Linked DNA regions of Homo sapiens: region 2 is linked to region 1. Evidence: fine-mapped expression QTL. Tissue or cell type: thyroid. Region 1 holds a variant in brackets; the other region holds the start of a gene. All regions are shown on one strand. Distances are between the middles of the regions.

What was found. PIP is the estimated chance that this variant, and not a neighbour inherited with it, causes the effect.
Region 2: it holds the start of OSCP1, and the variant in region 1 is fine-mapped to the expression of OSCP1 in thyroid (GTEx, PIP 0.98).

Annotation. Positions count from the first base shown.
Region 1 is chr1:36,397,569-36,401,823 of GRCh38, reverse strand. LSM10 (LSM10, U7 small nuclear RNA associated) reads left to right here and starts at 3,916. Exons shown (of 2, transcript NM_032881.3): 1 at 3,916-4,057. LOC124904013 (a long non-coding RNA gene) reads right to left here and starts at 561. Exons shown (of 2, transcript XR_007065797.1): 1 at 406-561. RefSeq lists enhancers at 366-455, 437-1,032, 1,033-1,629, 3,347-4,058, 4,059-4,255. The variant G/A (reference allele first, on the strand shown) is at 1,865.
Region 2 is chr1:36,448,134-36,452,249 of GRCh38, reverse strand. It overlaps OSCP1 (organic solute carrier partner 1), which reads left to right and starts at 1,799. Exons shown (of 10, transcript NM_145047.5): 1 at 1,799-1,992. The coding sequence starts at 1,881. It overlaps LOC107984940 (a long non-coding RNA gene), which reads right to left. Exons shown (of 3, transcript XR_001737976.2): 3 at 2,685-2,792. RefSeq lists a silencer at 1,404-1,673.

The DNA.
Region 1 (4,255 bases):
CTCCCACCAGCACAGGCAATCTGGGCACCAGCAGACAGCACGTTAATAGTGCCAGGAGGCAATCAGGTTCCTAGGCAGAAGGGGCAGATGCCCAGTGAAGCCCCACCTTCAAGCCAGGGGTGGCCTGAAGCCTGGGGGTGGGGCTGCCAGTTCCAGGTGGAACCCAGGACAGGAGTAAGAACTTCATTGATGCCTTCCAGCCAATTGGATGGTACTTTTTCCAGGCCCACCCATGGCCACCCATGGGCCAACCAGCATGCACTTCCTCCATTCTTCGCACATGAAAACCCCAGACTCAGCCAGTCTCAGACACTCCACAGGACCTGCTTGCGGAAAGGAGCCACCCACTTCAGGTCTCCCGAGAGCTGTTCTATCACTCAATAAAGCTCCCTCCAGCTTGCTTACCCTCCAGTTATCCACATAACCTCATTCTTCCTGGATGCGAAACAAGAACTTGGGACCTGCCAAACAGCGGGAGTAAAAGGAGTATAACATATTCCTGGCCAGCTCGCTGAGCTGCGGGTGGTGACACACTCCCAGACTGCAGGAGTGAAGAGTGGTGACCCTTCCGGGGGCCCACCCTCCACCAGCGGGTAGCTGTGCCACATGACAGGAAGCGGTGGCTGGGCCTAGCCAGCCCAGGAACCACGGGCCAGAGCAGGGCAGCACTGAGCGGTAGGACTGAAAGAGCTGTAACACATATGGACTGAAACACGCCCCCGCCCCCCAAGATGCCCCGCCCCTGCTCCTCGTGTGGTGAAGAGCTGCAGCCCTTCTTGGGGCCCAGACCTCCGGGCTCCACAAGCCAGGGCTGTGACACACTGTAACACCCTCTTTGTGGCTCTGTGGTTCCTGGTGTCTCTGAGCTTTCGGCCACCACTGTGTTCCCCTTGTCCAGATGCTGGTGCCCACAGCAGAAGCCACTTACGGTATGTCTGGTCCAGCCGCAGCCTTGCACAGAGCCAAAGCCTGTGCCGGCGCCTGGAGCTGCCAGTGCTGGCCCTTGGAGCTGCCCACCCGCTGCAGCAGCCGGCCTATCTGGCTGTGTGCAGTGGTCGGACCCTGTGCTCACTCGCTCACACATCCCTCACTGCTCCACACCTGGCACGCCTTTGGCAGGCGTGGGATCCGAGCCCGTAGTGCAAGCTGAGCCCAGCCTGCCAGACTGAGCAGGCAGAACGAGCCCAGCAGGCACAAGCAAAAGTCAAGCACAGGCGCTGCTAGCCACAGAGGTTTCCAGATGGCAGAGTGACACCCTAAGGTTCTTGTGACAGCTGGGACTATAGGTGCACCCATTACACCCAGCTAAATTTTTTTTTTTTTTTTGAGACGGAGTCTCGCTCTGTCGCCCAGGCCGGAGTGCAGTGGCGCGATCTCAGCTCACTGCAAGCTCGGCCTCCCAGGTTCACGCCATTCTCCTGCCTCAGCCTCCCGAGTAGCTGGGACTACAGACGCCCGCCGCCACGTCCAGCTAATTTTTTGTATTTTTAGTAGAGACAGGGTTTCACCATGTTAGCCAGGATGGTCTCCATCTCCTGACCTCGTGATCCGCCCGCCTCGGCCTCCCAAAGTGCTGGGATTACAGGCGTGAGCCACCGCGCCCGGCCACACCCAGCTAATTTCTTAAAACATTTTTGGCCGGGCTCGGTGGCTCACGCCTGTAATCCCAGCACTTTGGGAGGCCGAGGTGGGCAGATCACCTGAGGTAGGGAGTTCGACACCAGCCTGACCGACATGGAGAAACCCCGTCACTACTAAAAATACAAAAATTAGCCGGGTGTGGTGGTGCACACCTGTAATCCCAGCTACTTGGGAGGCTGAGGCAGGAGAATTGCTTCAACCCGGGAGGCGGAGGTTGTAAGCC[G/A]AGATCAGGCCATTGCACTCCAGCCTGGGCAACAAGAGTGAAACTCCATCTCAAAAACAAAAAAAAATTTAGAGATGGGGTCTCACTATGTTGCCCAGGCTGGTCTCAAACTCCTGAGCTTAAACAGTCCTCTTGCCTTGGCCTCCCAAAGTGTTGGGATTACAGGTGTGAGCCACCACCCCCAGCCAAGAAGCCTAATTTACTGAGCTTCTTCTCTGTGCCAGATGCTTTCACACATTAATGAAGGTCACTTAAATCTTACAGTTCTCTGAGAAAGGCCTAATTTTTTGTTTTCATAACAAGCAAATTGAGGCTGAGGAAGAAAGTAATTTTTCCAAGGCTATACAGAGTGACTTTTAAAAAATGTAAATCAGGTGGGGCACAGTGGCGTGTGCCTGTAGTCCCAGCTATTCTTGAGGCTTGGGTAGGAGGATCACTTGAGCCCAGGTAGTTGAGGCTGCAGTGAGCTATGATCACACCACTGCACTCCAGCCTGGATGACAGGGTGAGAACCTGTCTCTACAAGTAAATCAAATCACTTCGCTCCCTTTCAATAGCCTGTCATAGCACTTCTAGTACTAGATGAGAAGACTGAGGCACAGAGAAGATACTAACTTGCCCAAAGTCACAATTAGCCAGGAGTAGATTTGAACCTAGGCACTGTATCCGGAGGCTGCACTCCTAACCATGAAATCTAAACTCCTTACCTTGGCTCACAAAGCCCTATATGCTCTGGTTCCTGCTTCCTCTCTGGCCTCTTGTTATACCACTCTCCCCAGCTTCCCTGGCCTTTCCTGTGTTCCTAAATTGTCAAGGTCATTTCCCCCAGGTTCTTTGCATGAACTGTGAAAAGAAAAAATTTAACTTTTAATTGGTGATTTGACTTTTTTTTGCCAAATTTGTTAAATCTGACTTTTATTTGCAACTCTAGAATCGGGCAACACTTCATTCTATAAAATGGAATGAGTGTTCAAATGAGCTGAGCAGAGGAGATTGGTTTTACAGCCAGAAAAGGGCTGAGGAAAGCAGAAACAGAAAACAAAAAGATTGGTTGTTTCAAAGTTACTTTCCTTGTAACTTTGAAGGCTAAAGCAGAGGGGACTTCCTTATCCTGCCAGCTAAAACAGGATGGTTTGGAGATCTAGCTATCTCTCACTCTTCTGATTTATCGGAATATCAGATAAACAACTTAGTTTCCACTTGGTGATGTAGAACTTTAGCATGAGTGACTCCATTTTGGTTCTGTTGGGCTTGGTGCAGGAGCCCTGTTCAAACCAATGGCCTCCAATTTTTTTTTTTTTTTGAGACGGAGTCTTGCTCTGTTGCCCAGGCTGGAATGAAGTGTTACTTTCTGAGCTCACTGCAGCCTCCACTTCCTGGATTCAAGCAATTCTCCTGCCTCAGCCTCCCAAGTAGGTGGGACCAGAGGTGTACGCCACCACGGTGGGCTAATTTTTTCTATTTTTTGTAGAGACAGGGTCTCCCCATTGTTGCCCAGACTGGTCTCGAACTCCTGGGCTCCAGTGATCCTTCCGCCTTGTCCTCCAAAGTGCTGGGATTACAGGTGTGGGCCTCTGCACCCGGCCCTGCCTCCTATAAATTTTACTTAACAAACTGTTCCCGCTAATTGCAATGCTCCTCCCATAGTTTTCACAAGCTTGGCTTCATGTCACTAATCTCAACTCAAATGTCACCTTCTCAGGGCACCCCTGACAATCCAATAAAAGACCACCTTGTCACCATCACATCACACCTTTAATCTTCTGAAGAAATTTTTCCCTATTTTTCTTCTTTGTTTTCTTAAGACTCTCTCCCCTGCAGCGCCATCAGCTCAGGGAGCCACTTGATCTTGGTCACTGCTCCATGCCGGAGCCTGGGAAGGAGCCTGGCCCAGGTCGCCGGTTCAATGAATGCGTGCGGAATGAATGAACGACTCTAGTGAAAGAGACTCCAATGACGCAGGCCGGGATTTGCGGAGCACGAGCCCCGCGCCGCGAAGCATTCTGGGGATTGTAGTTTCTCCGTGACGCGGTGACTTGCAGAGCACTGACGCACTCTGCGCCCGGAGGACAGAGCGGCCCGGTCGCCGGCATGGTTTCTCCGTCCTGCTGCAGCCGGCGGGAGGCAGCCAGTCCAGGCGCCCGCTAGCTTCGGCGGCGACCCAGACGGGGAAAGCGGAAGGAATGTCGCGTGGTGGGTCCGGGTCGGCGGTGCAGGGAGCCCCGGGGCGGAATGCGGGGGATGCCAGGACCTCCGGAAGGAGGTGCCGGAGCCCAGGAAGCGTTTTCTTCCCCATTTACCGAGTATAGCTCCTTTCCCCAGACCCGCTCCCGCTGCTCTGAGTAAGCGGTGCTCATCCCGTTTTACCGGTAGCTTAGCTAGCTTGGAGAA
Region 2 (4,116 bases), 50 kb before region 1:
GAGCCTGTGGAGAGCCTGGAATGCCATGCCAAGGCATCTAGACTGTGATCTGGCAAAGAGTAGGAAACCACTGAAGGGATGTGTCATGTTGACAGTGATGCTGGCCGGGCGCAGTGGCTCATGCCTGTAATCCCAACACTTTGGGAGGCCGAGGCGGGCAGATCACCTGAGGTCAGGAGTTCGAGACCAGCCTGGCCAACATGGTGAAACCCCATCTCTACTAAAAATACAAAATTAGCCGGGCATGGTGCCCTGGTCCATGCCTGTAATCCCAGCTTACTCAGGAGGCTGAGGCAGAAGAATCGCTTGAAACCAGGAGGCGGAGGTTGCAGTAAGCCGAGATCGTGCCATTGCACACCAGCCTGCGCGACAAGAGTGAAACTCCATCTCAAAAAAAAAAAAGTGATGTCTTCTGACATTTAGCTTAGCAGCCAGTGCAAGGTAGAAGAGAGAAAAGAACAGTGATACAGAGGAACATAGCAATGCAGACAGAAAAACAAATGAAGGGATGAATGTAAGAAAGGTGTTGGAGGAAAAAGCATAATATGATGACTGATAAAAGACCCTGGGAAACAGATTTGGAAGCCAAGGCCCAAGTTTCAAGTTTGAGTAGCTGGAGGGAAAGATAATTAGTAGGTTTTGGAAGTACTGAAATTTACAGAAATGGTTGTTCATCAGAGTAAAAATATACAGCAGATGGCAAAAAGTAATCCTGGAGCTTAAGATGGAGGTAAGGAAGGGAGTCGCTGCCCTCAAAGAGAAATGGTTGGGGCCGGGCGTGATAGCTCACGCCTGTAATCTCAGCACTTTGGGAGGCCCAGGCGGGCAGATCACCTGAGGTCAGGAGTTCCAGACCAGCCTGGCCAACATGGTGAAACCCCGTCTCTACTAAAAATACAAAAATTAGCCGGGCATGGTGGCGGGCGCCTGTAATCCCAGCTACTCGGGAGGCTGAGGCAGGAGAATCGCTTGAACCCTGAAGGCGGAAGTTGCAATGAGCCGAGATGGCGCCACTGCACTCCAGCCTGAGCGACAAGGGCAAAATCCGTCTCAAAAAAAAAAAAAAAAGAAAAAAGAAATGGTTGGGAGGCCTTCGGAACAGCGTCGAGGAGGGAACTTCCCAGAGCCCCCAGGCGCATCCTCTGGGAACTGGACACACGGGGACGGACGGGACTGGTTTGCTTCATGGAGTATGAAACCAGGAGGGGCTTCACTTCAAGTAAACTTTTGGGAGGCGATGCAAACGACTCAGGACTTCTGATCCTTCCCTCGTCTAAAAGAAAAGTCAGTTACCATTTTTATTGAGTGCTTTCGGGGCCTTTCCATGATCTGACTGATTCCTCTCAGCCGCCCTGTGATGTGAGTGCCAGCTCCATGTTACGTAAGAGGAAGCCAAGGCTCAAACCCTGCCCGAAGTCACACAGCAAGAAATCACGAGCCGTGATTCCAACCCAGGTCCGTCTGACCCGAGCCTGCTCTAATGCCGTTCTGCCTGGGCTTTCCTCTGTTATAGGAACCTGAGGCCCCGCGCCAGCGGCCGGGGTCCCAAGCGCCGGGCTGGCTGTGTCGAGACCACCCCCAGCCCTGGCCCGGCCCTCGCCCTTTCGAGGGAAACCTACTCTCAGAAGCACAGCTCCCCAGCCGCGCCCAACGCCGCGCCGGCCTCTGGCTCGGACCAATCCCCCCGGGACGGTCCACCACCCAGACCAATTAGCTCCCGTCTTCAGGGCACCTCCCACCAAACCGCCTTCTGATTGGCTCGCTCTTCCCGTCACGGCGTTGCCCCAGCAACCGGACTATTGGGACGCTGCGGCCTGGCCTTCAGGCCACTGGCTACCGAACCCCGGGGCTCTTCACCAGTCCAGCTCGTTTCCAGCACCATGTCGGTGCGGACGCTACCGCTGCTCTTCTTGAACTTGGGCGGGGAGATGCTTTACATCCTCGACCAACGGCTGCGGGCCCAGAACATCCCGGGAGACAAGGCCCGCAAAGGTGAGAGGCCCCCGGCCCGCTCAGCCAGACCCGCAGCCAGCAGCCCGGCCCTCTCATCATCGCCCTAACACCCACAGCCAGACCCGCACCCCTACACACTTCACTCTTATAACCAGGGACCTTTCTTACAAGCCACATCCATTTGGAGCCCCTCGGGAGTCAAATCCCCCCAAAAGCTTTTTTCACAGCAGAGGAACTTAATACTCCCAGTGGACACTAGGGTGCCTGACCTCCCTAATTTCCCCATCTCTTCAAATGGGAGAGGTGATTTCCCAGTCTCTCTTGTCAATCAGTGCCTTCCAAATGTAGGAGTCCCAGCTGCCCACCATCTAGTATCATACCCCTTGCTAGTCCAAGCATCCTCTTTACCCCCAAGGAACAGGTTCTGATTTTTTTTTTTTTTTTTTTTTTTTTTTTTTTTTGAGACAGGGTCTCGCTCTGTCGCCCAGGCTGGAGTGTGTGGCACGATCTCGGCTCACTGCAACCTCTGCCTCCTGGGTTCCAGCGATTCTCGTGCCTCAGCCTCCCAAGTAGCTGGGATTACAGGCATGCACCACCACACCCAGCTAATTTTTGTATTTTTAGTAGAGATGGGGTTTCACCATGTTTCCCAGGCTGGTCTTCAATTCCTGGACTCAAACGATCTGCCCCCCTCGGCCTCCCAAAGTGCTGGGATTATAGGCGTGAGCCACCGCGTCCAGCCCAGGTTCAGATTCTTAATTTCTTTATGGTAGTATCTTCCCACATAAGCTGGAGATTGGTCTTACTCATCTCAGAAGTATTTCTAGAAATTTGGTGTTCTAAAATAATATAGATAAATATGAAAAAAATAAGAAAGTTATAAATCTCCTCACAAGTGTTGGAGGGGAATACAATTGTGAAAATAATTATATGAGAGCTTCGAAAATGCAAAATCTGCCTCCCATGGACACCACACTAATCCCCAGAAAAATGACGACTCAGAACACTCTGCCACTCTGTTCCTTTTCCTCTTTTCCTCCCTTCTCGGCAAACAACTTGCTTATACCAAATTTCCTAGGATTAAGTATGAAGGAAATATTATATTTCAAAGTGGAGGAGGAAAAGTTGAAAAGGCAATTGACATGGCCGCCAATTAAAACATTCTCTCCATTAATCTTTGTATGCTCAATTGATGTTCAACATACATATTCAGATGCTAAGCATACATATTCAGATATTAACTATTGTGTGTGTGTGACTGAGTGCAAGTCCATGCATAAAGAGCTAAAAATAACTCCCTATAACATACCCCCTCCATTCATTCTGCACATTGCCGCCAATGAGCTTTCTAAAATGTGTATCTGTCCAAACTTGCCCCTGCCTAAAACCCTTTGTCAGCTTTCCACTGCCATCTGGGTTAAGACCAAGTCCTTGCACAGGCCATTTCAGGGCCCTTCCTTATCTGATCTCTGTCTTCCTCTGCAGTCCCTTCTTCCACCACTGCCTGCCTCCTGTTTCCCAATAATACCAAACTGCTCATAGATCTCCGCTTAAACCATGTTTGTTCGTATTTCTGTGCTAGTAATTCCCATCCCTACATTCTTCCCCTTCAATCCTGCATTATTCGGCTTAAGAATCATCTCCTTCAGGAATCCTCCCCATATGCAGAAAGGGCCTGTGCATGCTCTCATAGCAGCCTGTGCTCCCATAGCACCCCATGCCTGCTCCTCAGTACCTTACCACTGGCCATGCTATACTGAAATGATCTGTGTATATGTCTATCTCCCGCTTGATTGTCTTATTCATCTTTGTACTCCAGCACCTACCATAATTCCTAGACCAGAATAAATTAGTGATCACAAAATGTTTTTTGAACTGATTATCTAAATTGGCAGTTTTATATAGCATTGTCATTTTTCCTTTGAGAGGGTTCTGTTTTCCTTGGTGCCTGTGTGATCTGATTTCATTCAGGCTAGTGGCACCAATGAGGTGACATGCTGGAGTCCTCAGACTGGTAGGTAGTCTGCATCTTGGAAGATAGTGTAAATTAGCAATTAAGAACATACTCTCTAGAGTCTTACAGACCTGGATCCCAATTCCAGCTTTACCATTTAACTAATTGCATGCCCTTTGGGTGTAACCTCTATAAACCTGTTTCTCCAT